7 separate regions of the Homo sapiens genome follow, and regions 1, 2, 3, 5, 6 and 7 are each linked to region 4. The links come from fine-mapping of genetic effects on gene expression. A gene starts in region 4. Each other region holds a variant in brackets. All regions are shown on one strand. Distances are from middle to middle. Region 1 has its middle 6.9 kb from the start of CATSPERQ. Region 2 overlaps HSF1 (heat shock transcription factor 1). Region 3 overlaps ADCK5 (aarF domain containing kinase 5). Region 4 holds the start of DGAT1 (diacylglycerol O-acyltransferase 1). Region 5 overlaps HSF1 (heat shock transcription factor 1). Region 6 overlaps BOP1 (BOP1 ribosomal biogenesis factor). Region 7 overlaps MROH1 (maestro heat like repeat family member 1).

What was found.
Region 1: its variant is fine-mapped to the expression of DGAT1 in whole blood (TOPMed, PIP above 0.99). The same link has a PIP of 0.9 or more in blood mononuclear cells.
Region 2: its variant is fine-mapped to the expression of DGAT1 in whole blood (TOPMed, PIP above 0.99).
Region 3: its variant is fine-mapped to the expression of DGAT1 in whole blood (TOPMed, PIP above 0.99).
Region 5: its variant is fine-mapped to the expression of DGAT1 in whole blood (TOPMed, PIP above 0.99).
Region 6: its variant is fine-mapped to the expression of DGAT1 in whole blood (TOPMed, PIP above 0.99).
Region 7: its variant is fine-mapped to the expression of DGAT1 in whole blood (INTERVAL, PIP above 0.99).

Annotation. Positions count from the first base shown.
Region 1 is chr8:144,345,999-144,350,060 of GRCh38, reverse strand. No RefSeq gene overlaps it. Among named protein-coding and RNA genes, the nearest start is that of CATSPERQ, 6.9 kb to the left of the region's middle. The variant G/A (reference allele first, on the strand shown) is at 2,301.
Region 2 is chr8:144,293,837-144,297,898 of GRCh38, reverse strand. All of the region lies in intron 1 of HSF1 (heat shock transcription factor 1), which reads right to left. Among named protein-coding and RNA genes, the nearest start is that of HSF1, 4.3 kb to the right of the region's middle. The variant A/G (reference allele first, on the strand shown) is at 1,618.
Region 3 is chr8:144,387,753-144,391,814 of GRCh38, reverse strand. ADCK5 (aarF domain containing kinase 5) reads right to left here. Exons shown (of 15, transcript NM_174922.5): 4 at 1,069-1,144; 5 at 759-959; 6 at 541-681; 7 at 341-454; 8 at 104-235; 9 at 1-32. Among named protein-coding and RNA genes, the nearest start is that of MIR939, 4.4 kb to the left of the region's middle. RefSeq lists an enhancer at 2,865-3,366. The variant G/T (reference allele first, on the strand shown) is at 2,163.
Region 4 is chr8:144,325,177-144,329,238 of GRCh38, reverse strand. It overlaps DGAT1 (diacylglycerol O-acyltransferase 1), which reads left to right and starts at 2,387. Exons shown (of 17, transcript NM_012079.6): 1 at 2,387-2,802. The coding sequence starts at 2,603. RefSeq lists silencers at 1,961-2,680, 2,691-2,760.
Region 5 is chr8:144,302,605-144,306,666 of GRCh38, reverse strand. All of the region lies in intron 1 of HSF1 (heat shock transcription factor 1), which reads right to left. Among named protein-coding and RNA genes, the nearest start is that of MIR6848, 13 kb to the left of the region's middle. The variant C/G (reference allele first, on the strand shown) is at 1,659.
Region 6 is chr8:144,281,584-144,285,645 of GRCh38, reverse strand. The region is part of intron 2 of BOP1 (BOP1 ribosomal biogenesis factor); the gene reads left to right. Among named protein-coding and RNA genes, the nearest start is that of BOP1, 7.8 kb to the left of the region's middle. The variant T/G (reference allele first, on the strand shown) is at 1,762.
Region 7 is chr8:144,258,619-144,262,680 of GRCh38, reverse strand. It overlaps MROH1 (maestro heat like repeat family member 1), which reads right to left. Exons shown (of 44, transcript NM_032450.3): 36 at 3,767-3,904; 37 at 3,327-3,441; 38 at 2,624-2,770; 39 at 2,307-2,495; 40 at 1,849-2,004; 41 at 1,640-1,774; 42 at 1,465-1,567; 43 at 1,332-1,397; 44 at 755-1,026. The coding sequence ends at 941. BOP1 (BOP1 ribosomal biogenesis factor) reads left to right here. Exons shown (of 16, transcript NM_015201.5): 14 at 9-93; 15 at 178-285; 16 at 364-636. The coding sequence ends at 517. It overlaps MIR7112 (microRNA 7112), which reads left to right; the gene lies at 1-8. Among named protein-coding and RNA genes, the nearest start is that of MIR7112, 2.1 kb to the left of the region's middle. The variant G/T (reference allele first, on the strand shown) is at 2,266.

The DNA of each region.
Region 1 (4,062 bases), 21 kb before region 4:
AATTTCCAGTTTAAGCCACTGTAATTTACATTTGTTGTTGTTGTTGAGATGGAGTTTCGCTCTTTTGCCTAGGCTGGAGTGCAGTGGTATGATCTCTGCTCACTGCAACCTCTGCCTTCCTGTTCCAAGTGATTCTCCTGCCTTAGCGTCCCAAATAGCTGGGATTACAGGTGCCCGCCACCATGCCTGGCTAATTTTTGTATTTTCAGTAGAGACAGAGTTTCACCATGCTGGCCAGGCTGGTCTCAAACGCCTGACCTCGTGATCTGCCTGCCTCGGCCTCCTAAAGTGCTGGGATGACAGGTGTGAGCCACCGCACCCGGCCTATTTGATCCACCTGCCTTGGCCTCCTAAGGTGCTAGGATTGCAGGCATGAGCCACCGCACCCGGCCTATTTGATCCACCTGCCTTGGCCTCCTGACGTGCTGGGATTGCAGGCATGAGCCACCGCACCCGGCCTATTTGATCCACCTGCCTTGGCCTCCTGAAGTGCTGGGATTGCAGGCATGAGCCACCGCACCCGGCCTATTTGATCCACCTGCCTTGGCCTCCTGAAGTGCTGGGATTGCAGGCATGAGCCACCGTGCCCGGCCTATTTGATCCACCTGCCTTGGCCTCCTAAAGTGCTAGGATTACAGGCATGAGCCACCGCGCCCGGCCTATTTGGAGTTTTCTAACAGTTGCTGGCAAGTGTGATTCTAACTAATAAGATTATTAGGCTGAACGTTGTGGCTTGCACCTGTGATGCTAGCACTTTGGGAGGCTAAAGCAGGTGGACTGCTTGAACTCCTGTTCAAGACCAGTCTGGGTAACATAGTGAACCTTGTCTCTACAGAAAATACAAAAATTAGCCAGATGCGGTTCTGCACACCTGTAGTCTCAACTGCTTGGGAGGCTGGGATGAGGCAAGAGAATTGCTTAAGCCCAGGAGTTTGAGACCAGGCTAGACAGCATAGTGAGACCCCATCTCTTAAAAAAAAAAATGGTTGGCCGGGTGCAGTGGCTCACGCCTGTAATCCCAGCACTTTGGGAGGCCAAGGCGGGCGGATCACAAGGTCAGGAGATCCTGGCTAACACGGTGAAACCCCGTCTCTACTAAAAATACAAAAAAAAATTAGCCGGGCGTGGTGGTGGGCACCTGTAGTCCCAGCTACTTGGGAGGCTTAGGCAGGAGAATGGCGTGAACCCAGGAGGCGGAGCTTGTGGTGAGCCAAGATGGCGCCACTGCACTCCAACCTGGGCGACAGAGTGAGACTCTGTCTCAAAAAAAAAAAAAAAGGTTATTAGCTTTGAAGGTGGAGGGGATTAGCAGGTTTTAAGTCAAGAAGACGAGGTGTGAAATAGTCTTCCCAGGGAGCAGGAGAGTAACTGGATAGGGAAAGTATAGTAAGATTGTCAGGCAGTGTGGGGTGCTCAGTTGAGATGCGTGTCACACATGTGAAGGGTGAGTGGATGTGGTTGTTTTTCTAGGGAAAAGGTTTGCTGCTTAGATGCAGGTGTGGAGTAGGCAGTTAGTTGGGTCAAACAAGGGTAGGTGGCCGGGCCTGGTGGCTCACGCCTATAATCCCAGCACTTTGGGGGATCGAGGTGGGCGGATCACCAGAGCTCAGGAGTTCGAGACCAGCTTGGCCAACATGGTGAAACCCCATCTCTACTAAAAATACAAAAATTAGCTGGGCGAGGTGGTGGGCTCCTGTAATCCCAGCCACTCAGGAGGCTGAGGCAGTAGAATCGCTTGAACCCAGGAGGTGGAGGTTGCAGTGAGCCCAGATCACGCCACTGCACTCCAGCCTTGGCAACAAGAGCGAAACTCTGTCTCAAGAAAAGAAAAGAAAAGAAAAAAGGGCTAGGTGTGGTGGCTCACGCCTATAATCCCAGCAGTTTGGGAGGCCGAGGCAGGTGGATCACAAGGTCGGGAGTTCGAGACCAACCTGGCCAACATGGCAAAATCCCGTCTCTACTAAAAATAGAAAATTAGCCGGGCATGGTGGCAGTTGCCTGTAATCACAGCTACTCAGGAGGCTGAGGGAGGAGAATCGCTTGAACCCGGAAGGCAGAGGTTGCAGTGAGCCGAGATTACACCACTGCACTCCAGCCTGGGAGACAGAGCGAGACTCCGTCTCAAAAAAAAAAAAAAAAAGAAAAGAAAAGAAAAATAGTAACTTGACAGTGGAAGAATCTGGCAGATGCCACGTTAACCAGGTGACTGAGGTCAGCCTCACCAGTGATGTCACAGTGACGCCACATGAGCCCTGCGGTGATGTAATGAGAAGCCTCCCCACACCCCAAACCCTCATCAC[G/A]AGAGCACATCAGACAAACCCCAACTGAGGGACATTTTACCAAAGACTCATTCAATCTATAAAATTGAGCAGTGCTCCTCAAAACTGTCAAGATCATGAAAAACAGGGAAAGACTGATAAATTGTCACAGACCACAGACTAAAGAGACGTGATAGCTAAATGCAAAGTCGTATCTTGAATTGATTTCTGTAACAGATAGAGGATGTAGATGGAAAAACTAGTGAAATCCAAATAAAGCCTGGAGTTAGCAGTAATGTATCAAGGTTGGTTTCTTTTTTTTTCTTTTTTTTTTTTTTGCAACGGAGTCTTACTGTGTCACTGAGACTGGAGTGCAGTGGTGCTGTGTCAGCTCATTGCAACCTCCGTCTCCTGAGTTCAAGCAATTCTGCCTCAGCCTCCCGAGTAGCTGGGATTTCAGGCACCCACCACCATGCTAGTTTTTTTATATTTTTAGCAGAGATGGGGTTTCACCATGTTGTCCAGTCTGGTCGCAAACTCCTGACCTCAGGGGATCCACCCGCCTCGGCCTCCCAAAGTGCTGGGATGACAGGCGTGAGCCACCACGCCCGGCCCAATGTTGGTGTCTTAACTGTGACAAAGGAACCATAGGCATGGAAGACAGGCCGGGCTCAGTGGCTCACAACTGTAATCCCAGCACTTTGACAGGACAAGGCAGGAGGCTCCCTTGAGCCCAGGAGTTCAAGCCAGCCTGGGCAACATGGTGATACCTCGTCTCTACAAAAAAAAAAAATTTTTTTTTTTGAGACGGAGTCTCAATCTGTTACCCAGGCTGGTGGGCGCTGGGTGTGATCCCAGTTCACTACAATCTCCACCTCCTGGGTTCAAGTGATTCTCCTGCCTCAGTCTCCCCAGTAGCTGGGATTACAGGCATGCATTACCAGGCTGGGCTAATTTTTGTATTTTTTTTTTTTTTTTTTTTTTTTTTAGTAGAGACAGAGTTTCACCATGTTGCCCAGGCTGGTCTTGAACTCCTGACCTCAAGTGATCTGCCTGCCTCGGCCTCCCAATGTGCTGGGATTACAGGCGTGAGCCACCATGCCCAGCCAACTTTTTTAAATTAGCTGGATACAGTGACATGCCCCTGTGGCTGAGGTGGCAGGGTCACTTGAACCCAAGAGGTCAAGGCTGCAGTGAGCTGTGATTGTACCACTGCACTCCAGCCTGGACAACAGGATGAGACCCTGTTTTTTTTTTTTTGAGATGGAGTCCCACTCTATCGCCCAGGCTGGAGTGCAGTGGCGCGATCTCGGCTCACTGCAAGCTCCACCTTCCAGGTTCACGCCATTCTCCTGCCTCAGCCTCCCGAGTAGCTGGGACTACAGGCACCCACCACCACGCCCAGCTAATTTTTTTTGTATTTTTAGTAGAGACGGGGTTTCACCATGTCAGCCAGGATGGTCTTGATCTCCTGACCTTGTGATCCACCTGCCTTGGCTTCCCAAAGTGCTGGGATTCCGGGCGTGAGCCACCAAGCCCAGCCTTTTTGTTTTTGTTTTTTTTTGAGATGGAGGTTCTCTCTTGTTGCCCAGGCTGGAGTGTGATGGTGTGATCTTAGCTCACTGCAACCTCCGCCTCCTGAGTTCATGCATTTCTCCTGCCTCAGCCTCCTGAGTAGCTGGGATTACAGTACAGGCATGAGCTACCACGCCTGGCTAATTCTATATTTTTAGTAGAGACGAGGTTTCACTATGTTGACCAGGCTGGTCTCGAACTGCTGACCTCAGGTGATCTGCCCACCTCG
Region 2 (4,062 bases), 31 kb after region 4:
ATAGAAAGTGTCTGTGTCTCTGAGTATCTTCTCAAAGGGCTCCCTGGCCCAAAACGTGAACAGTGCCGTATTCTACAAGGTGGCCCCACAGCCCAGGCCACAAGCCTCTTGTTCCAGCCTCCTGCCAAGTCAAAGCTGTATCTGCTGACCGGTGATCTGGGCTCCTGGGCTCGGCTGGCCGGCTGTTCCCTCTCCGGGTCCCGGGAGTATAGGCTTTAGGAGCAAAGGGAGCGCGTGTGTGAGTAGCTGTGGCCCACGTGTGGGGAGCAGGGACCACCGGAGTCAGGGCATGGAAGCAGTGAGGCAGGCAGGAAGCGCGAGCAGGTGCAGACAAAGTGGCTCACTTTGTGGCCCCGTTCCCTGGTCTGGTTCTGTCCACATCTGAGCCACCCGCACCTTTCTCATAAACACTCTTCTTGTTTCCGCTCTGGAGGAGCTTCCAGCGTGTTCTCGCCACACAAGGACCAAGAGCAGCACAATCGCCCTCATCTCTCATCACATCTCGTCACTGGCTGCCGTGCACAAGTGTGGTGGCTACTGCTGCTCACCATGGCCCACAGGGTCACAGGGAGGAGGCTGAGGCAGCAGCAGCCCTTGCTGCCAGGTGCCTTGAGACATTTGGGACCACCTCCTTTCCTTAGACAGCCTCCCCTCCACCTGCCAGACCTTGAGGAGACCCTGGAGCCAACAGCCCTCAATATACCCGATGGGAGCTGCTTGCTTCCTCTGGGAAGGCACTGTGAGCCCCACCGACCCCTCTCCAGCTCGCCCTGCACACAGGCTGACTCCTCCAAAACTGAGAGACTTTCAGGGCCAGGCTGTCCATCCCTGGTCCCTCAATAAAGGACTGAGCAAACACTAGCCTGTGGAGTTGGGTGGGCATGGGGCACCGGAGGCATCTGCCTCCCCCCAGGAGGCCACTGCAGCTCAGCCCTTCTGTGCCCTGGGCCCCTCCTCACCGCACCCCCCCCACCACACCATCCGGGGCAGAGGAAACACAGGAGGCTACAGCACAGAGCCTTTTTAATTTTTTCTGTGCTATGCACAGAAGCTGTATGAGGACAGATGTGTGCCTTCTTTTTTTTTTTTTTTGAGATGGAGTCCCGCTCTGTCACCCAGGCTGGAGTGCAATGGCGCGATCTCAGCTCACTGCAAGCCCCGCCTCCTGGGTTCACGCCGTTCTCCTGCCTCAGCCTCGCAAGTAGCTGGGACTACAGGCACCCACCACCACGTCCAGCTAGTTTTTTGTATTTTTTAATATAGACGGGGTTTCACCATGTTAGCCAGGATGGTCTCAATCTCCTGACCTCCTGATCTCGTGATCCGCCCACCTCAGCCTCCCAAAGTGCTGGGATTACAGGCGTGAGCCACCACGACCAGCCCCAGCTGTGTGCCTTCTTATGGCCACACCAGGAGGCACTATGGTCCGGGCACACATCAGGCCCTCCAGACCCTGCAGCACTTCTCACAGCTGCTGCTGTGGGGCCTCCAGCATCTTGGGCCAAATACCAGATCTTCCAGGGTGGGGCCAGTGGGCCTGCTGGGTCTTGGCGGCTCTCAGAACCAGGGAAGCAGGGGTGGCCCTGCCTGCCGTGGGAGCTCCGGACACGATCTGTG[A/G]CCAGGGTCTGAGTGACTGAGCGTGGCCAGGTCGGCTCTGCTTCTGCAACTCCTCGTGTGCTTATGAGTGGACGCCCTGCCCTGCCTTACTTCAGGGACCCCTCAGGCCCTGCCCCCTGCCTCACTGCAGGGACCACTCTGCTCCCAATTGTCCACCCAGAGACCCTCCACAGCGGCCACCTGACCACTGGCTTTCAATGGAACTCTCTCCCGCGATAGGCCGAGGGCCTTGGTGACCTCCAGCTCACTCAGTCTCAGGGAGCCCCAGGGTTTCAGCACATCCTTCTAGAGTCTTTCCAGCTGCACCCATGAGGCTGGGGCCAGGTGAAGACAGAGAAGCATCCAGGAGCCCACATCTAAGGAGGCCCCCACTCCCAGCGCCATCCGAATGCAGGTAGGTCTTAAAAAGGAATGCCTCAGGGCCAGGCGCGGTGGCTCAAGCCTGTAATCCCAGCACTTCGGGAGGCTGAGATGGGAGGATGGCTTGAGCCCGTGAGTTCCAGACTAGCTTGGGCAATACGGCGAGACCCTGTCTCTACTAAAACCTTAAAAAGAAAAAAAAAAAAAAGCCAGGTCTGGTGGTGCAAGCCTGTAGTCCCAGTGACTCAGCTGAGGTGACTGGATCACTTGAGCCTGGGAGGCAGAGGCTGCAGCGAGCTGCAATCATAGCCCTGCACTCCAGCCTGGGCAACAGAGCGAGACCTTATCTAAAAAACAAAAAGTGCTTCCTTAAATTTTGCACCCAGGTGCCCCCTCTGGCCTCACCCTGATCCTGAGGCCTCCGTCTACCTGGGTTCGTTCTAACCTGCGTGACCATCATTCTAGCATTTGTCTGGCACAGGTCATGTGGCTGTGCCTTGTTCTCAGGCTCCTCAGCCAGCTGGGTGGCTCCTGGGGCTGTAATCTCACCATCTCAGATGTCGAGATTACTTTTCATACTTCCTTATCTTGTTAATAAAGATGGGACAAAATCATAGCTTGTAAAAAACTGGGATGATGGTGAACCCAGTTCTGAGGCTTCACTTTCTGCTTTTGTTTGGTTCTCCATGCTGTCAAATTCTCTGAAGAGGCTGTTGCCCTCCTGAGTCAGCTGCAGCCCAGCAAGGCCCTAGAAGAGCCTCTGCTGGTGGACAGAGGAGCTGCTGCATGCAGACGAGGAAGCTGGGCTGAGGGCCGGCACCAGGGCACGGGGCAGGGAGGCTGCGGGTCCCGGGTCTCATGGGTCTCAGTTCTATGGAGGTGCCTGTCAGTCCAGGTATTCAGTCCCCCAACCCCGTCTTTGGGTCTCAGTGGTACTGGATCCAGGTGTACCTTTGGGAGAAGCTGTTGAGAAGCTGGCTGAGGGAGGACCACCCACGTGCACGCCCATGCTCTTATGTGGATCCCCGGGATCATAACCTTGTGGCTGACACATTTCCTCTCCAAGGCTGTGCTGTCCTCCACGACTTGCTGGGTCCCCTCAAGGCCCTTGCCTGTGTGGGTGGGGTGCTCATGGGAATGAGGGTCTTGGGAGGGGGGGGTGGGAAATCAAACAACACAGGGATGGGGTAGCTGCCACAGTCCCCACCAATGGGGTCTCCTGGGCAGTGACCCGGCATTCTGCCTCCAGTGGCTGCAGTGGGAGTCCTGATCTCAGGCCAGGGAGGGGACGTGCAATGGTGGTCCAGACCTGGTCCCATTCCTGGCCAGGCTCAGTAAAGTTACTGGCCAGTTTCTGGGCCTCGGTCTCCCCCAGGTTATTCAGCCTTGAGAGTTAGTCACCATGCCTGTGATTCTGCCTCATCTTCTTGTGTCAAATAGGGAGGGTTTTTCTTGGCAGAATGGTGGTAAGACTCTGAGCCAGAAGGAGACTCTCCCAGAGAAGGCAGCAGAGAGCAAGAGCACCAGGGCCTTCTCAAGGCCTCCGAGAGCCAGCTGGGCCTGGGCAGTAGATTTGTGGGAGGGTGCCCTGTTGGGACTCTGCTGACAGGGAGTCCTCAGGGCTTGTGTGAGTGCTCTCAAAGTCACAGGATGGGATGATCACCTCCTTTCTCCAGGCCAGGCAGCCAGCGCCGGAAAGCTCTGCAGCCCCCTGCGCGGCCTGGAGAAGGGCTTCCTTCCAGTTTTAAGTCAGTGTTTCTGTCTCATTGCCATGCTCGCCCCCAGTGCTACGTCCTGCACCAACCATTGCCACTTCATACTGACCAGGTGGAACCAAACACTCACATTCCAGTTGGCTCCCCATCCCTCCCCAGGGAGAACAGATCCACAGGTGGTGCACCTGTGAGTGGAGTGGAGGCTGGCCACGGGCCTCATCACACCTGCCTTCCTTGCTCAAAAGCCCTGCCCAGAACATGCCTCGGTCCCAAAAAAGGGTACACTGGGCCCTAACCCACATGCCTCATAATCTTTAAGCAGAAACAGCAAGCAGATTACGGGACAGGACAGATCACGCTAGTAGGATTA
Region 3 (4,062 bases), 63 kb before region 4:
CAGCCGGCGCAGAAGTCGGCAGTGAGCACGCGCTGGGGAGAGCAAGAGGCTGGGCTCAGCAGGCCCAGCGCTGTGCCCACCCCAAGGGCCTGGCCCAGCCCACCTTGCTGGACTTGTCCCAGTGCACGCGGGGCACCACGACGTAGGGGAAGTGCGCCAGCTCCCGCGCACAGCGCTCTGCGTTGCGGCCCTCATTCTCGAAGTCCAGCTCCTGGGCCAGGGTCCCCTTCAGGTCCTGGGGGCCAGATGGCGGTTGAAGACCAGCTCTGCCTACCAGCTGCTCCTACCAGCTCTGCCTACGTGTTTGCTCCTGCTGGCCGGGGAAGGGGTGGGGCTGTACCTGGAGGACCCAGCTGAAGCCAAAGCTGGGGTGCATGACCTCAACGAGCCGCAGCAGGAGCTCCAGGGTGTGGATGTCCCCATCAAAGCGGTCCCGCAGGTCGATGTACTGCACCTGCACTGGGCGAGGGTGTGGTGAGAACTTGGGGCCCCACTGTGCCCCGCCCCAGCCCACTGCTGAACAAGGCAGCCCCCATATACCTTCACAGCCACGCTGGTGCCATCGTGCAGCTTGGCTCTGTGCACCTGTGCCAGGCTGGCGGCAGCAATTGGCTGGTAGTCAAACTCCTGGAAGAGCTCGTGGGGGAGGGCCTGGAAGTCCTCAAGGAACAACTCATCCACCTGGAAGGACAGGTGCTCAGAGCAGCCTGGGGCCACTGCTGGAGGCCCCACCTCCCTCGGCCTGAGCGCACACTCACCTCCTGGAAGCCCCGCTTGAGGGCCCTGTCCTCTAGCACGCGCAGGGTCCGGGTATACTCGGGGGGAAGCAGGTGGTTGAAGGAGCACAGCCCCTGGCCCAGCTTCACGTAGAGGCCCCCGTTGCTGATGGCCCCTGCCACCAGGGCATCAGCCGCCCGCTGGTGACACGCAGACATCACCTCCAAGTAGCCTGGGCTGTTCTGACCACAGGCATGGGGAGAACACATGGGGACAGGTGGCTGCCTCCTCAGTCCCACCCAGCCCACCACCTCATGCCCACCACTGTGTGCCCAGGGCACCAGGACAAACCTCTTCCACCCCTCGAAGGACAACATTGGTGCACCACCAGTAGTCCAGGGAGATCTGCAGGCCGACCTTCAGAGACCTGCGGGCAGAGGTGGCCTCAGTCTCCAGCGGGGCAGGCTCGGGGCCCCGGTGCTTGGTCCTCTTGTCAGAGCCCTCATGGTCTAGCCTCACCCCGGCCAGCCCTTCATGTCCCAAGGGTGAGGCCAAGCCAGGGTCCAGCCTACAGCCGCGTAGGCCTGTGTGAGCACAAGGGGTGCTGCTGAGCTCGTGGGGTGTCCTGTGGCCCTGCAGGTCAGTCTCAGCTCAAGATCAGTAGAACGGGGCCAGGTGTGGTGGCTCATGTCAATTATCCCATCACATTGGGAGGCTGTGCTGGGAGGATCACTTGAGCTCAGGAGTTCGAGACTGGCCTGGGCAACATGTTGAAACCCTGTCTCTACCAAAAATGCAAAAAAATTAGGCAGGCACGGTGGTGCACACCTGTGGTCCCAGCTCCTCAGGAAGCTGAGGCAGGAGGATCGTTTGAGCCTAGGAGGTGGAGACTGCAGTAAGCTGAGATTGCACCACTGCACCCCAGCCTGGGCAACAGAGCGAGACTCCGTCCAAAAAAGATCTGCAGAGCTGGGCACAGTGGCTCACGCCTGTAATCCCAGCACTTTGGGAGGCCGAGGTGAGTGGATCACCAGAGGTCAGGAGTTCAAGACCAGCCTGGCCAACATGGTGAAACCCCATTTCTACTTAAAATACAAAAAAATTAGCCGGGTGTGGTGGTGCACACCTGTAATCCCAGCTACTCGGGAGACTGAGGCAGGAGAATTGCTTGAACCCGAGAGGCAGAGGTTGCAGTGAGCCAAGATCGCGCCATTGCACTCCAGCCTGGGCAACAAGAGCGAAACTCGGTTTCAAAAAAAAAAAAAAGAGGCTGGGCTTGGTAGCTCACACCTATGATCCCAGCACTTTGGGAGGCCGAGGCGGGCAGATCACAAAGTCAAGAGATTGAGGCCATCCTGACCAACATGGTGAAACCTAGTCTCTACTAAAAATACAAAAATTAGCTGGGCATGGTGGTGCGTGCCTGTAGTGCCAGCTACTCAGGA[G/T]GCTGAGGCAGGAGAATCACTTGAAGTCAGGAGGCGGGTTTCGGTGAGCTAAAATTGCGCCACTGCACTCCAGCCTGGCGACAGAGCGAGACTCCGTCTCAAAAAACAAAAAAAGATCTGCAGAATGGGCAGCCTGTGTCCATGCCACCCTCACTCCCTGCCACCCTCAAGGGTGCCCAGGTGAGATGGGGTAGGGGACAGTATGGACGGTGGCATCCTCTGGAGAGATGGGGTTCCAAGGCTGTCTGTGAAGGTAAAGGATGGCAGCAAGGGGGCAGGGCTGAGGCAGCAGAGGTCACAGGAGGGTCAAGGTCACCTGCAGCCTGAGGTCCACTAGGAAGAGAGGAGGACACCAGGAGGGTGGGTCTCCAAGGCCTGGGGAGGCAAGGTCTGCAGGGAAGAGAGCCCAGTTAAGGCAGGAAGTGGGGGACATCCTGGGTATCTGTTGAGCAGGTACTGGGCTCCTGGGGGAGATTTAGGCAAGAGGATGGGGTAGAGGGGTGTCCCCAGGCCTGGCCCCAGTTAGGAGGATATCAGGGTGGGAGCCCTGGGAGAACTCTGGGGACCAGCTGGGCAGCCCTGGAATGAGGCGCCAGGCAGCGGGCAGACCACACACAGGTGCACAGGGAGGGGCTGAGGTCAGAGTGGCTTCTCCAAGGCTGGCCATGGCCAGAGGCCTGTCCCTGCGTTCTGTGAAGCTCACGTACCTGCCTGGGGACAGGGCCCACAGTCATTCCTGAAGCGCAGCTCTGGCGCTCAGGTGGACTCTGTGTCCCCCATCAACCCAGGGCGACCCCCCGGCCATTCAGGCCCCACTCTGGCCCCCGTAGAGCATCTGGAGTGCGTGCTTGGGTTAGGCCAGGGTTTCGGTTTCTTTTTTTTTTTTTTTGGAGACGGAGTCTCGCTCTGTCGCCCAGGCTGGAGTGTGGTGGCGATCTTGGCTCACTGCAGGCTCCGCCTCCCAGGTTCACGCCGTTCTCCTGCCTCAGCCTCCAGAGTAGCTGGGACTACAGGCGCCCAACACCACGCCCGGCTAATTTTTTTGTATTTTTAGTAGAGATGGGGTTTCACCGTGTTGGCCAGGATGGTCTCGATCTCCCGACCTCGTGATCCGCCCACCTTGGCCTCCCAAAGTGCTGGGATTACAGGCGTGAGCCACCGTGCCCGGCTCTAACTTTTCTACTATTAAAATTTGTTATAGTAAACACAACACTTTTGTAACAAAACTTAAAGATGTGAAAAAGTCCCACAGACTTGTGCTTGGGGGAGAAGGAATTTAATTTTTTTTTTTTTTTTGAGATGGAATCTCGCTCTGTCGCCCAGACTGGAGTGCAGTGGCACAGTCTAGGCTCACTGCAACCTCCGCCTCCCAGGTTCAAGCAATTCTCCCGCCTCAGCCTCCCGAGGAGCTGGGACTACAGGTGCCCACCACATGCCCAGCTAATTTTTCTATCTTTAGTAGAGATGGGGTTTCTCCACGTTGGTCAGGCTGGTCTCGAACTCCTGACCTCGTGATCCGCCCTCCTCGGCCTCCCAAAGCATTTTCACATTGCATTTCACATTGCCTCACAGAGCATTTTCAACATTGCTGTATGTTTGAAGTTTTTCACAAAATGTTGGAGGCCGGGTGTGGTGGCTCACACCTATAATCCCAGCACTTTGGGAGGCCAAGGCGGGCGGATCCCCTGAGGTCAGGAGTTCAAGACCAGTCTGACCAACACAGAGAAACCCGCCTCTACTAAAAAATACAAAATTAGCTGGGTGTGGTGGCGTGTGCCTGTAATCCCCAGCTACTAAGGAGGCTGAGGCAGGAGAATCGCTTGAATCCAGGAGGTGGAGGTTGCAGTGAGCGGAGATCCCACCATTGCACTCCAGCCTGGGCAACAAGAGTGAAACTCTG
Region 4 (4,062 bases):
TTTGTTGCTGCCCCCAGCAGGGTGATCTGCATCATGCTTTCCTCGATGACCCAGCCATACACACCCTTGTCCCCAACCAACCTCACCTACCCTGACCATTCCCCTCACCCTAGATCCCAGGGTATAGGGCCTGTCTGGGCAGGGCTTCACCCACCTCTGGAGCTGCTGCCCCGCCACGCCCCCACCCCCGGTGGCAAAGCCCTTCCTTAATGGCCCGCCCACAGCCAGTGCTTTCCCCATTGGCTCCAAGCCTGGCTCTGCTCACCAGGCCCGACCCATCCTCCCTGGTGGTCCAGTCCACCCTCCCATTGTCTTTCTCCTGTGGCCACTTGCCGGCTTTGAGTTGGGACGCGACCACAGGTTGAGTCGTTGATCTCCTCTGCCTAGCATGAGGTGCTCCGTGGCCAGGTCCAGACCTCTCTGAGCTTGCTGTCAGTCCATACTCAGACAGGTCTGGGCCTACCTGGCCACAGAGTGTGTCTGCCAGCGACTGCATTCAACAAATGAATATTCTGAGAGACTGGGTAGGAGATGGGGCTGGTCCTGACCGACCAAGGCCCATGTGTGAGGGGCTCTTGGGTCCAGTGAGGGCGGCCCCACTCGGCAGGCTACACAAAGGGCATCTGCCAGGTAGCTCCAGCCTGCCTGATACCTGGTTGGCAGCAACCCACAGCGGCCTGTGGTGACAAGAATATGTCACCAGGGGGGCAACCAAGGGGGCAGCCCTGCTGGCCACTGTTGGTGGAGGTGGTGGAAGAGGACGGAGCTCAGAGGCGAGGCTGTGACCAGCCCACGGGAGAGGACCCCACCTCAGGAGGAGCACCTGTTTGCTTCCAGAGAAGTGCTGCTTGCCCCTGCTCACCCCAGAGGAATGAAGGTGTTTCTAGAGTCAGAGTCCTCAGTGAACCCTGGCATCCTGAGATCCAGGATGTTCTCACTCCATGCCCTGTGCAATATGCACACCAAGCCAAGGTGGGCCGCAACTGTGGCTGTTACAGTTGATTAGTTGCTTCATTTAACATACAAGATGTCTGGGGCAGTGGCTCATACCTGTAATCCCAGCACCTTCAGAGGCCGAGGTGGGAGGATTGCGTGAGGCCAGGAGTTCGAGACCAGCCTGGGCAGAATAGCGAGACCCCCATCTTTAGAAAAAATAACAACAGGCCAGGCGCGGTGGCTTGCGCCTATAATCCCAGCACTTTGGGAGGCCGAGGTGGGCGGATCACGAGGTCAGGAGATCGAGACCAGCCTGGCCAATATGGTGAAAGCCCGTCTCTACTAAAAACAGAAAAATTAGCTGGGCGTGGTGGCACGCGCCTGTAGTCCTGGCTACTCGGGAGGCTGAGGCAGGAGAATCGCTTGAACCCAGGAGGTGGAGGTTGCAGTGAGACGAGATCGCGCTACTGCACTCCAGCCTGGCGACAGAGTGAGACTGTCTCAAAAAAAGAAAAAAGAAAACAAAAAACAACAGGGCGGTTGCACAGGCCGTGCAAATGCACAGAAGCCTCTTGAGTCCCGGCGATCCAGCGGCCCAGACTTCTGACATCCTGGAGAGGCTGGCCCACGTTGGAAACTGGGAGGCCCTGAGAGTTGAGGGACGTGGAGCTCCTTGTGGAGAGAGTGGGTGGGCTGAGAAGACACCACCAAGGGGCCTGCGCCCTCGCCCTCGCCCTCGCCCTCCTCTCGCCGGGCTCTGCAGGCGGGGAGGTGGAGAGCCTGGGAGTCGCGTGCAAGGCAGGCGTCCCGGTGACGCAGGGCCTGGTGCATTTCTCCAGCTTGGTCTTCTGACCTGGCCCTTGTCTGACGTCCCCCTAAGGCGAAGAAAAGCAGGTTCCTGCCGGGGTAACCAGAGGGCTCGCGGAGCAGAAGCGCGCCAGGGACGTTACTGTAAGCTGCGTGCGCAGAAACCAACGCGCTGGGTGGCGGGCGACGCGAGCCGCCGCGGACACCGGCCCGGACAGCTGGACCGTGGCGCACTAGGCGCTTCCTAAATGATTGCCCGGAGTGACTCGCCGAGACCCCGTGTGTACACAAGTGGGACGAGGGGCGGGCGCACAGCGGCCAGGAAGTCGGGGCCCAGCGCACCCCTCAGCGGACCATCCCGCTCCGTGGGGCCGGACAGGACCCCGGGACCACGCGGGAGCGATGCAAGGTCCGTTCCCGCTGCGCGCACTTGCGGCCCGCAGCCCCGGCCCTGGGAGCTGCCACGGCTCCCAGGGTGCTCTGCGCCGGTGCGGCCGCGGCGACTACGACTCCCAGGGTGCTCTGCGCCGGCGCGCCCGCGGCGACTACGACTCCCAGGGTGCCCTGCGCCCCGTCAGCCTCTCCAGGCCCCGCCTCAGGTCGGCCGCGGACTACAAATGGACGAGAGAGGCGGCCGTCCATTAGTTAGCGGCTCCGGAGCAACGCAGCCGTTGTCCTTGAGGCCGACGGGCCCGACGCGGGCGGGTTGAACGCGCTGGTGAGGCGGTCACCCGGGCTACGGCGGCCGGCAGGGGGCAGTGGCGGCCGTTGTCTAGGGCCCGGAGGTGGGGCCGCGCGCCTCGGGCGCTACGAACCCGGCGGGCCCACGCTTGGCTGCGGCCGGGTGCGGGCTGAGGCCATGGGCGACCGCGGCAGCTCCCGGCGCCGGAGGACAGGGTCGCGGCCCTCGAGCCACGGCGGCGGCGGGCCTGCGGCGGCGGAAGAGGAGGTGCGGGACGCCGCTGCGGGCCCCGACGTGGGAGCCGCGGGGGACGCGCCAGCCCCGGCCCCCAACAAGGACGGAGACGCCGGCGTGGGCAGCGGCCACTGGGAGCTGAGGTAGCGGAGCGCCTGACCCCCTAACCTCTGACCCAAGGGCCCCGCGACTTTCCGGGGTTGGCCGAAGCGCGAGCTCCGAGTCCGAGAACATGGGCCCTGGGCTAAGCGGGGATCGGTGTGCCCTATGGGCCCTGTGGGGAAACTGAGGCTTGGGGAGAGTCACCTGACAAGGTCACTGGGTAGGGGCTCTGGAGCTGGCCTTGGCCAGGCAGAGGGGAGCCGGCAGGTGTCCCGCATCCAGATCCTCTTGGGTCTGTGCATCCTCAGGGGCTCCTGAGGAGCTTTTCGAGGGGCGGGCTGGTGGGGGCCCGGCCCTGGACAGTGTCCCCTTATATGGAAGGAGTCAGATAAGATCTGGGCAGTTTGTGGTGATAGGTTCCTTCTTGGTGCTATGAGCGGTGCCTTGCGGGTAGGAAAGGCTCCCAGAGGAGGGCTGGCCTGCCAGGGAGGGGGCCAGAGGAGCCCAGGCCTGTCCGAGGACAGGGGAATCAGCAGCTGCCCCGGACAAGGGGCAGTGTTAGAGGCGTTCTTGTCCTTGCAGACCCTTCTGAGAGTGGCTGCGTGGCCCATTCATTGCTCCAGTGGTTAGGCTGGCCTGGAGCCCTGCCGATGTTGCCAGAGCCAGCGTCTGTTGTAGGGACAGAGAGTTGGGTTCTGTGTTGGGACTTCCATCCTCCAGGTGGGGAGTGGGGTATGGGGGTGGTGGACACACCTGCAGGCGTGTGCCCTGCTCAGCTGGATGACTGACAGAGAGGGGTGGAGGGAGAGAACCATGGCCGATGGGAAGGACTTGGCCAGCCTGGGCATTGGCTTCCTCCACCAAGCTGGCCTTGAGCAATCCCCTTGCCACCCTCCATCCCCCCTTTATGGCCTTTACCCTGGCCCAGGGGCCCTCAGGGCTTTGTTTTAGAGAGCAGCTGAGGGCCTAGAGGTTATCAAGGCAGAAGTGGGCTGATTTTGGACATGTAGTTGGCAATGATTTGCTCTCTCAGTGAGCAAGAACAGAGCTTTCCTTCACGGGGCACCATGGGGAGGGGGTTGGGGGAGGGCAGGCACTGTCGTGGCCCTCAGGGTGCTCAGTTCATCTGGGAGATAAGATAACCTCAGCGAGAGTCAGGCATGGAGCAACATGGACAAAGGTCGGGCACGGAGGCCTTGAAGGGGCCGTGGGGAGGAGGGTGGCCCTCCTGAGAGGGGTGCTTGCCTGCTGTGGGCCTGGGGTGCTGGTGAGGGAGGCTGGCCTAGGCACCTCCTACCTGA
Region 5 (4,062 bases), 23 kb after region 4:
TTCCAGCCGGCTGCGCTGGTTCACGCCTGCGGTCCCAGCACTTTGGGAAGCCGAGGCGGGTGGGTTGCTCAAGCTCAGGAGTTGGAGACTGGCCTGGGCAACATGGCAAAACCCCGTCTCTAGAAGAAATACAAAAATTAAGTGGGCGTGGTGGCGCACACCTATCATCCCAGCTACTCAGGAGGCTGAGGAGGGAGGATCCCTTGAGCTCCGGAGGTGAAGGCTGCAGTGAGCTGTGATTGAACTACTGCGCTCCAGCCTGGGTAACAGACTCAAAAACAAACAAACAAACAAACAAACAAAAAACTCTAGTTAAAAAAAAAAATAGAGATATGCAAAGAAACAAGAAGCTAGGACCCATACCCCATACACGGGAAAAAAAAAAAAAGGCAATCAATAGAAACTGTCCCCAAAGAAGCCAAAACATTGGACACTGGACTTACGAGGCAAAGATTTTAAGTCAATCATTTCAAATATGTTCAAACAACTAAAGGAAACCACATCTGAAGAACTAAAGTATGAGAATGACATCTTATCAGAGAGTATCAATAAAGAGATAAAAATTGTAAAGAAGCCCGAAATCAAAATTATGGAGCTGAAGAGTTTAATAACTCAGATTAAAAGTCAACCAGAGGGGCCGGGCGCGGTGGCTCACGCCTGTAATCCCAGCAGTTTGGGAGGCCAAGGCAGGCGGATCACCTGAGGTCAGGAGTTGGAGACCAACCTGACCAACATGGAGAAACCCCGTCTCTACTAAAAATACAAAATTAGCCAGGTGTGGTGGCTCATGCCTGTAATCCCGGCTACTCAGGAGGCTGAGGCAGGAGAATTGTTTGAACCCGGGAGGCAGAGGTTGCAGTGAGCCGAGATCGCGCCATTGCACTCCAGCCTGGGCTACAGAGTGAGACTCCGTCTCAAAAAAAAAAAAAAAAAAAAAAAAAAATTAACCAGAGGGGCTTAAGAGCAGACCTGACTAGGAGAAGAAGGAGTCAGCAAACATGAAGATCAGTCAATTGAGGTGCTCCAGTAGGAGAAAAAAAGACAGAAGGAATAAGAAGGAGGAGCCGGCCAGGCGCAGTGGCTCACGCCTGTAATCTCAGCACTTTGGGAGGCCAAGGTGGTTGGATCACGAGGTCAAGAGATCTAGACCATCCTGGCCAACATGGTCAAACCCCATCTCTACTAAAAATACAAAAAAAATTAGTTGGGCATGGTGGCATGTGCCTGTAATCCCAGCTACTTGGGAGGCTGAGGCAAGAGAATCGCTTGAACTCTGGAGGCAGAGGTTGCAGTGAGCCGAGATTGCACCACTGCACTCCAGTCTAGTGACAGAAAGAGACTCTGTCTCAAAAAAATAAAAACAAAAACAAAAATGAGCAGAGCCTCAGAGACCTGTGAGACACCACAAAAAGTGTAACACAGCCGGGCATGGTGGCTCACACCTGTAATCCCAGCATGTTGGGAGGCTGAGCCAGGCGGATCACCTGAGGTTAGGAATTCGAGACCAGCCTGGCCAACATGGGGAAACCCCGTCTCTACTAAAAATATAAAAATTAGCCGGCACAGTGGCGGGCGCCTATAGTCCCAGCTACTCGGGAGGCTGAGGCAGGAGAATCGCTTGAACCCAGGAGGCAGAGGTTGCAGTGAGCCGAGATCAC[C/G]CCACTGCACTCCAGCCTGGGGGACAGAGTGAGACTCTGTCTCAATAAAAAAAAAAAAAAAGGATTAAAATGCCTGGTGTGGTGGCTCATGCCTGTAATCCCAACACTTTGGGAGGCTGAGGTGTGTGGATCGTTTGAGGTCAGGAGTTCCAGCCTGGCCAGCATGGTGAAACCCCGCCTCTACTAAAAATGGAAAAATTTTAGTGTCGTGGCTCATGCCTGTAATCCCAGCTACTTGGGAGGCTGAGGCAGAAGAACTGCTTGAACCCGGGAGGTAGAAGTTGTAGTGAGCACAGATCGTGCCACTGCCCTCTAGCCTGGGTGACAGAGCGAGACTCCATCTCCAAAAAAACAGAAACAAAAACAAACCAAAACAAATAAAATAAAAGCATTAAAATAAAAGACCCTGCCACTCAATCTTTGTATATTGGCCGGGTGTAGTTACTCATGCCTGTAATCCCAGCACTTTGGGAGGCCAAGGCAGGAGGATCCCTTGAGCCCAGGAGTTGGAGACCAGCCTGGGCAACATAGCGAGACCCCATCTCTACAAAACATAAAAATTCAATATCCGGCAAAGCTATGCTTTGAAAATGGAGAGATTTCCACTTCTGGAACAGCAATGTGAGGAACTTCATGGAAGTACTTCCTGTGAAACAAGCAAAGCTTAAACCACTTAAAGTCTCAAAACTGTCCTAAACGCATATAACAGATGAACACTTACGGAGTAAAATCTACTGACACCTGGTACGAACATTAAGCCTGGTGGCATCTGAGCCTCAGCCTCCTCTTTCCCTCTCACCCCAGCTCACCATGATGGGTACTACACTCAGGGAGAGGGGAGCAGGAAGATGGGGACCCTTCTCCCCTCAATTCCCAAATAAGGTTTCCTGGATCTCATGGGCTGGGCAGACCACCAGAGTTTCACATCCTCACCGACTCCAAGTTGAAGAGACTAAGATCCTGGTGCACGTGGCCAAGAAGCCAGGGGCTCCCTTCCTCCACCTTGCCCAAGCCTCAGAGAGGAGACTACCCCCGCCACAGCAGGCTGAGGACACCCAGGTCTCTGATCACCCTCCCCACAGCTCCCACCTAATTAAAGCATTTTCAAAACCACAATTTTTTTTTTTATTTTTTATATGGAGTCTCGCTGTCGCCCAGGCTGGAGTGCAGTGGTGCCATCTTGGCTCACTGCAACCTCCGCCTCCTGGGTTCAAGCAATTCTCCTGCCTCAGCTTCCTGGGTAGCTGGTATTACAGGCATGTGCCACCACGCCCGGCTTATTTTTATATTTTTAGTAGAGACAGGCTTTCACCAGGTTGGTCAGGCTGGTCTTGAACTCCTGACCATAAGTGATCCACCCACCTTGGCTTCCCAAGGTGCTGGGATTACAGGCATGAGCCACTGTGCCTGGCCTTAAAAACCACAAGTTTTAAATACAGTTCAGGCTTTCTAGGTTAAAACAGTAGGGTAGAGCACCCATGCTGGGAAAGCCAGGCCAAGAAGATCAGAGGCTGCTGTCTTACCCAGTGCCCAGAAGGGTGGTGCAGAGAAATCAGCCTGGGGAGAGAGGCCGTCCATAAGGAAAGAGCTCTGAAGCTCCCTGAGGAAACTCATTTTATTTGAAAGTTCAGCCCAAGACTGCTCTTGGGAACAACAGCTCCTCTAAGTTAAGAGAAACAAGTGAAACCGCAGGCTTGTTCACCTGCACAGGAAAAGCTACGAAGAGCCCTGCTGGGGCCAGAACAACCCTGACTGACCTCAGACACTACCACTACTCAAAAACCCCAAACACGCCTGCAACAATAATCCAAATAGCGAGACCCCCATCTATACCAAAAAAATGATAGAAGAGACGAAATCATAAAGGACCCCCAGTGGAAACTCTGGAGTAGAATAACCAAAGCAGAACTGCTGGCCGTGTGGTAAATGCTGAATTTCACATGCAACTCCCAAGCTGCTTTCCAAAGCGGATGCAGCATTTGTGTTCTCAGCAGCACGGGTGAGTTCCAGGGGCTCCGCACCCTCCTCAGCACCTGGCTGTTCTAGTCGCTGTCGCTGCGGTTTTCGTGTGCATTCCTCTGACAACGAACGATGCTGAGCACCTGTTCAAGTGCTTATTTGCTATTTGTCTATCTTTTTTTTGATGTATCTGTTCAAATCTTCTGCCTTTTTCAATGTATGTTTTTTCGAGACAGAGTCTGCTTTGTCACCCAGGCTGGAGTGCAGTGGCGCGATCTGGGCTCACTGCAACCTCTACCTCCTGGGATCAAGAGATCCTCCCACCTCAGCCTCCCGCGTAGCTGGGCCCACAGGAGCACACCACCACATCAGGCTCATTTTTTTTTGTAGAGATGGGTCTCCCTATGTTGCCCAGGCTGGTCTCGAACTCCTGAGTGGAAGCAAT
Region 6 (4,062 bases), 44 kb after region 4:
CAGCTTCTCCTGCTGCTAAGTGTCCTTGCCCTGCAGTGGGCGCACCTGGGATTCTGTGGTCCTGGCCACGGCCACTCGTGTGGTCTTGCAGATGGTTCATGGGCCTCGGTGGGTTACTTGGTAAGTGAGGGTAATGTCTGCCTGGCAGCCCCTGAAGGACGAGATGATGTTTTTGCTAATTTCTCTTCTGCCACGTGCTTCTGCCTGTCCCCCCACTCCCTCCTGTCGCTGTTTCCTCCACAGTGGTTGGCAAGACGTGGCCCCTGTGGCCTCTGCCTCGTGCATCTGAAGGACATCCCAGCCACAGCATCACATCAGACTGGAACAGTGGCGGGATGGGGCTGGGCATCAGGCAGCATGCATGTGTCATGTCACGGACACCTCAGGGACACACGAAGTCAGGCAGGGCGAGGGCCTCACTCCCCAGGCCGCCTAGCCCTTGGTGGGTATACCCGGCCCCGATGGTGCTGTGAAGAAGGGGCTGTGTGACTGGCATGGGAGGGAGCTGCGGCTTTTGTTCATCTCTGCCATCCTGGCAGCGATGTGGCTGATGGGTCACCTTCAGAGAGCCTCCTCCATAAATCTGATTCCAAGTGTGTGCCCCAAACCAACCCAGACCGGCCCGGGGCGTCCTGCGGAGAGCCCCACAGTGGGAGGCCCTTGTAGCGGGGAGCCCGGTGACTGCTGGGGGTCAGCTGCTGGCGGCCCCTGTGGAGACCTGGCGACCTGCCAAGGGCTCCGGACCTGCCTGGGTGGACCCAGGGTGGGCGTGCTTCTGGCTGCAGGGCCGGGCCACAGGCTTCCCTCTGGCTTTCTGCCCTCAGGCCTTTAGCATTGACATGCACACGACCCTGCCTCCTTTCTAAGGACTGTGTAGAATTACGTGGCATTCAGTGAGCAGCTGCACGTGGTGTTCTAGGGCACCTTTGGATGCTCAGGTGCTCCTGAGGGGTGTGCCAGGGAACGAGTCTCCTACCCTTCCCTCCTGGCTCCTGTTGCTGCATCCAGGCAACTACTGTTTCCAGTGCTGAAGTCTCTTTCCAGGATGTTCTAGACATATCCAAACTCGCACAGAGTTTTTGAATGGTGGTTTCTTAAGAGAAGGGGCAGCCGTGCGCTGTCTCAGGATGGTTCTGTCAGGGAGGCCATGGCTCTGGTTTGTACAGTGCTTGGTGCCCGTAGAGTGCCTGGCAGCTCGGCCTCAACAGCTCCAGTGGGTGGGCAGTTGCAGGCTTTTGCTCTTACAGTTGACCTGACAGTAACATGCTGTTTCTCACATGTGCACACCATTCTTGGGGAAAATTCCAAGAGAATTTCTAGGTCAAAGGATAAATGCTTTTTTTTGTTTGAGACAGGGTCTCACTCTGTCACTCAGGCTGGAGGGCAGTGGTGCGATGTTGGCTCACCAAAATCTCAACTTCCTGGGCTCAAGGGATCCTCCTACCTCAGCCTCCCTGGTAGCTGGGACTACAGGGTCCCCGCCACCATGCCTGGCTAGTTTTGTTTTGTTTTGTTTTGTTTTGTTTTTTGAGACAGAGTCTCGCTCTGTCGCCCAGGCTGGAGTACGGTGGTGCAATCTCGGCTCACTGCAACCTCCACCTCCTGGGTTCAAGTGATTCTCCCGCCTCAGCCTCCTGAGTAGCCGGGATTACAGGCGCCCGTCATCACGCCCGGCTAATGTCTGTATTTTTAGGAGAGACGGGTTTCACCATGTTGGCTGAGCTGGTCTCGAACTCCTGACCTCAGGTAATCCACCTGTCT[T/G]GGCCTCCTGAAGTGCTGGGATGACAGGCGTGAGCCGCCGCACCTGGCCATCAATGCATTTAATTGTGAAGGTGCTTGGAGCGTCCCTCCGCTAGGCGGTGATGCCATGCACTACTGCAGCCGCCCCTCAGCTGCTTTCCCACCACCAGCCTCCCTCATGGTGTTGCTGCTTCATCTTTTCCTCTTGTTTAGTGATGTTTTTCTTTCATTAAGAATGAGGCTCGCACAGCTGGGCTTAACTGAAAAAATAAAAATAAAAAGAATGAGTCACAGGCTGGGCCCAGTGGCTCACACCTGTAATCCCAGCACTTTGGGAGGCCAAGGCAGGTGGATCTCTTGAGCCCAGGAGTTCAAGACCAGCCTGTGCCATATAATGAGACCCCATTTTTACAGAAAATTTAAAAAATGAGCCAGGCATGGCGGTGCGTGCCCGTGGTCCCAGTCCCGGAAGCCCTTCTGTCTCTTCCCTGTGGCGGCATCATCCATGCACTTAGCTGGCTGGAAACCCTCATGGCTGTTGCCCAAGGGCAGGACAGCTAGCTGGTTCTTGTCATTTTGGTCTGAGCTCCCTGGGCCAGGAGCCCTTTGCTGTTTTCTCTCTGTTTGTTTGTTTTGTTATCTGGCACCACAACAAACTGCCCCAAACCATGGAGCCTTTCTTTTTTTTTTTTTTTTTTTTTTTTGAGATGGAGTTTTTTTGCTCTTATCGCCCAGGCTGGAGTGCAGTGGCACAATCTCGGCTCACTGCAACTTCTGCCTCCTGGGTTCAAGCGATTCTCGTGCCTCAACCTCCTGAGTAGCTGGGATTACAGATGCCAGCCACCACGCTCGGGTAATTTTTTTTTTTTTTGTATTTTTAGTAGAGAGGGAGTGTCACCATGTTGGCCAGGCTGGTCTTGAACTCCTGACCTCAGGTAATCCACCTGCCTTGGCCTCCCAAAGTGCTGGGATTACAGGCGTGAGCCACCGCACCTGGCCACCATAGTGCCTTTCAACAACGAGCATTTGCTGTCTGTGTTTCTGGGGTCAGGAGTCCTGGTGTTTTGTGAGGTGCACTCAAGGAGCAGGGTCTGGCTGTGCCCTTTGCAGCTCCTCCCCTGACTGTTGGCATGAGGAGCTCAGGAGTGAAGGTGAAGAAGGGTACTCTGTGTCTGGGGGGTGGTCAGAGGATAGGGATGAGGACAGGGACAGGGCCCAAGAAGATGGGGTGGGTGCTGTACCTCCCCCTTCCTTCCCTGGGGTATCTGTGGGCCACGGCAGGGCCCACAGCTGTTGCTAGTAGCCTCCTTGGGGCCAGTGGGTTTGATTTATTTTTGTGTTTGTGTGGTTTGAGGGCAGGCATCCCTTCCCCACCCTTTGCGTCCCTGCTACAGTGACCCCTCTTTCTGGGTCCACCTGCTCTGGCACGAGCTTGGTGGGCCAGCCTCACCCCAGGGCCCACCCCATCTCCAGCCTCCCTGCCTTGGGCCTGGCAGTCCTGCCTCTTAATTGCGTTCTGTGCCACCTGATGACCCACGAGTTCTGTCTCCTGGCCTGGTTCCTACTCCCTGGGACTTTCTGCAGCCCCTGCCCTTCCAGCTGTTGACTGTGTCTGCGAGCCATCCCACTGGAGGGGCGCCCTGGGCTGTGTGCTCCCTGCCCTGCAGCACCCCTGACACGGGTGCTCCCAGCCCTCCACTGACCAGCCAGGGAGGAAGCTGCCTCCTGCCGGCCTGTGCCTCGCTTCCTGTCCCCTCTCCAGCAGCACACGGCAGCGCGGGCCGCGGGCTCACCGGAGCGAGGACTGGTTGCAGGGCCTTCTCTTTATCGCTGGTGTCTAGTGGATCTGTGGGGTCCGTGCGCTCAGAGCTGTTTTTTCCTTTCTGTGCTCATTTAGATTCATTTTTTTCCCAGCTTTGCTTGGTTTTGTCTTTTCATTTATGTGAGTTTTTCTTTTTATTATTTTGTGCAGAAGTTTCTGTTTTTATCAGTTAATCTGCTTGTCACAGTCAAGAATGTGAGAAAAGACTGGATGCGGTGAGCCAAACCTGTAATCCCAGCACTTTGGGAGGCCAAGGTGGGCGGATCACTTGAGGAGTTCGAGACCAGCCCGGCCAACATGGTGAAACCTCATGTGAATTGCTTGAGCCTGGGAGGCGGAAGTTAGAGTAAGCTGAGATCATGCCACTGCCTCCATCCTGGGTGACAGAGTGAGTGGGACTCTGTCTTGAAAGAAAAAAGCACTAGTAAGAGAAGGCCTAAGACCTAGTATTAAAGTAAGAGAAGGCCTAAGACCTGGTATTAAAGTGAGAGAAGGCCAAA
Region 7 (4,062 bases), 67 kb after region 4:
GGCCCTAGGTGACAACGTCATCTGTGGGAGCTACGATAGCAAGCTGGTGTGGTTTGACCTGGATCTTTCCACCAAGCCATACAGGATGCTGAGGTGAGGAAAGCTGGGGGTGGAGGCGGCCAGCAGAGCCCCTCCCTTCAGCCCGAGCCTGCCTTCAACCTGGTTCCCTCCCCCCAGACACCACAAGAAGGCTCTGCGGGCTGTGGCCTTCCACCCGCGGTACCCACTCTTTGCGTCAGGCTCGGACGACGGCAGTGTCATCGTCTGCCATGGCATGGTGTACAAGTGAGTGCTGACCCTGCCTGGCCCCCTCCCCAGGGCAGTGGTGTCTGGCCGTGCCCTGAGCCCTCCTCGTCCCCACAGTGACCTTCTGCAGAACCCCTTGCTGGTGCCCGTCAAGGTGCTGAAGGGACACGTGCTGACCCGAGATCTGGGAGTGCTGGACGTCATCTTCCACCCCACCCAGCCGTGGGTCTTCTCCTCGGGGGCAGACGGGACTGTCCGCCTCTTCACCTAGCTGTTCTGCCTGCCTGGGGCTGGGGTGGTCGTGCTGAAGTCAACAGAGCCTTTACCCTGTGCTGCCTGGTGCTCCCACCTTCTTGAATTGGGGTTGCCAACAAAGCCGCCCCCACCACAGCGCCGAGCCTTCCCCTCACTCAATTTTGCAAAAACAGTGGGGACAACACAGCCAGTCCAGGGCACCCTCTGGCCCATCCCCTAAGAGGCTCAGCATCGCACCCTGTCAGTCACTCGCTGGGAGCAGATGAGTTTATTGGGCACATCCCTCACTGAAGGGCTTGGGTTTGGTCCCCAGCAGTGCCTGTTCTGGGGCCAGGCCCCTCCAGTCGTGTGCCCAGGCTGTGGTCCTCAGGAGGCCCTGTCTTGGAGCTCAGGCACAGGTCTGGGTGCATACTCCTCGCTGGGGGTGCTGGCCGGAGCCTTAGGCGAGCTTCACCAGGCGGCCCAGGGCCTCAGCAGCCCTCGTCCGCACCTCGGGGGCCGGGTCCTTCAGCAGGATCTGGAGCGCTGGGGGTAGAGGAGGGGGGCTGCCTGCGGGCTGTGACCTCGGCATGCCCATGCCTGCGCGTGGGCCACGCTCTCCTGACAGCCTCTGCTGGGAGGCTCAGGAGCCAACGGAAAGATCGTTTTTCCTTTTTTAGTGTTTTTTAAGCTCTTTTGGAACAGTTAAGAAGTTTCCGTGAATTACTAGAGACGATGAGGTCACCAGTGACAGGGAAAAAGTCCTGAAATCCAGGAAAATCACTTAGTCCCTGCGGGTGCCTACAGGGTCAGCAGGGCCCAGCGGAGGGGCCCCGTGGAGGGGTGCTCACCCGCAATGAGCTGGTCCAGGTCCACCTGCGGCTGCTGCCTGGGCTCCGAGTGCAGCACCAGGAACCCTGTGAAGTGGGGGCATCAGGCGGGGCTGCCGGGCGGCGTGGGGGTGGGGCAGGGGGTGGTGCTTACCGGTGAACAGGGGTGCAGCAGCTCGGACGTTCTCCCAGCTGCTCTTGAAGTAGAACAGGCAGGTGGTCAGGAGACGGCCCAGCAGGTCTGGGAAATGGTGCATCTGGGGAGAGGCCTGGTCAGTGCCGCCTGGCCCCGCCCCACCCACCACGCCCCGCCTGGCCCCACCCCTCACCAGGTGCTTGCAGGTGGTGTTGAGGAACTCCCCGAAGTGCAGGGCTCGGCCCTCCTGCAGGTGTTTCTGGAAAGCAGCTGAGAGCTCCTCACATGCCAGATTGGGGCCACACATGCGCAGGGCAAACCTGCAGGCCTAAGGGATGCGGCACTGGGGCCAAGTCCAGTTGAGGCCACCCACCCCATCCCACTCACCCCCTGGCTACTCACGCTGGCCACGGTGGCCTGAGGGTCCTGCAGGTGCAGCAGCAGGGGCGCCAGCCCGCCCACCACCTGGTCCAGGAAGACGTCCTCACAGTCTCCGTGGCAGACCTTGTTAAGGTGCCCAAAGAGGCGGATAGATGCCGTCCGGAACTCCATCTTCTCCTGGGAAGGACATGCAGCATACGTCTCCTCACAGGCTGTGCCCCTGCAGGCCTGCCTGCCTAGCCCCCTGCCATTGATGGGTGCCCTTGCCTGACCCGGGCCAGGAAACACCCCGACGGGTGGGGGCCTTACGGGTGGGGGCTGCCAGGCCCAGCAAAGCAGCAGCCCTGCAGGTCCGCGCTCTCCACGGTCACCTAGCCGAGGTGGGAGACAGGGAGGAGGGTGGGGCTGGGGCTAAAGCTCAGAGTAAGAGGCAGGAAG[G/T]GCTGGGGCCCTCTTCCCTCCCCCTGCCCCAACCAGCCTACACTGTCGAAGAAAGGCCGGATGCGGATGGCCACGTGCAGCAGCCCTGAGCGCAGGTCCCAGGACTCCACCAGGTGCACCAGCCTCGCAAGGCCCAGCATGGCCTCCAGGGCCACTGGGCTGTGAGGGTTGTCCCCGTCGTCCAGCCCGCCAATCATGGCTGTGAGGAGCTGGGGGCCGTGGGTTCGCACCTGAGGATACCTTACACTCAGCCTGGGTCCCAGAGTCACCGTCTGCTACCCCACAAGACAGGGTGGCCTCCATGCACAGCCCCCCACCCATGCTGCCTGGGACCCAGAGGGGCTGGTGGCCACCCCACCTTGTCAGGGCAGCCGGAGGCCAGGTTGGCCAGGCCGCGGAGCACCAGCCTCCGCACGCTGGCGCATGTGTCCTTCTGGCGAGCCGCCAGGCTCTCCAGCAGCGAGTCCAAGAGCATGAGGTCGTTGGCCACGTTGCTGTTCAGCAGCTGCAGGCAGAGGTGCTGTGACTTCCCTCTCCCCGCTGACCCCAGGGCTCAACCCACCAGCCCAGGCCCAGAACACCAGAGGCTGTCCCCACGCCGGTGTGGCAGACAGAGGTGGAGCACCTACTCCCTGGGTCTCCGATCAGTGGCGACCCCTCCCTGTTGTGCCGCTGGGGCCTGCTCTGACGCCCGCTGTGCTCTGCTGCACGGCCTTGGGCAAGATTTTGGCATCTTTGGCCACGAAGGCCAAGACCACACCACCAAGGGCACCTGGGGTCCCAGGGGCCAGCCCTGTCCAGCTACAAATGTACCCAGCTGGACTTGGGGAGAGTACAGGCTGCAGGGAGCCTCGGTCCTCCTCTCACCAGGCACAGAGGGGGTGTCCCTGGGTGGGACTGAGTGAGTTCTGGCATGGGGGAGGAGGTAGCTAGCATCCACATAACCTCCCTCACAGACCACGGTCGAGGGGGCCTTTTAGGGGTAAGAAAAGGGCATCCCGTGCCTGTCCTGAGCAGGAGCCCCACCTTGGTGCCCAGCATCCGTCCCTGGAAGGGCCTACCTCGGCCAGGAAGGCGGTGGTGGTCACCCTCTGGTTCTCATACGCACTGCTGTGTGTGCATGCCAGCGTCTTCAGCACCAGGGGGAGTCGGGGCCCTGCGTGCTCAGCCATGGCCCTGGGAAAGGGGGCCGCTGAGGGTGCAGGGGCTGTTGCTGTGCTGAACCCTACCCAGGCACCTTCCACCCTGCACAGCCCTGGTCCGCTCCACCGCCAGCTGCCAGGTTCTGGGAGTTCTATGTTTCAGAGATGCCTCCCAGCTTGCCTCGCCAGGCCTCTGCAGGGGTGCCTCCCTACCCCTGCCCCAGAGAGTGAACAGGCAGGAGCCCAGGGCACCATTGGCCTGACACGCATGGGCCCCCGCCTGATCCTGTCATGTTCTGGGCTCGAGATCCGGTGGAGCCCAGCCAGTGCTGGAGCTGCAGTGGGCTGGGCCCGCTCACCTGGCCAACCTGGTGGCCCCCTCCTCATGCCCCGCCGAGGTCCTGAGCAGTTCCCAGCCTCCCTCCAGGTCCATGCGCTGTACCACATCCTCGCTGCCGCTGCGGAGTAGCATGGACCGCAGGGTGTCCACTGCAGAGCTGCAGGATTGCCAGGGTGCTCAGCTGGTAGGGCACACACGCCTACCTCCCTTCCTGATTAACTCCTCAGGTCTGCACCCAATGCGTGTTGCCCACCTGGTGGCTAGCCCTATCCCTGCCAGAGCCACTCTCCAGGAAGCAGGCTCTGGGCCATCTGC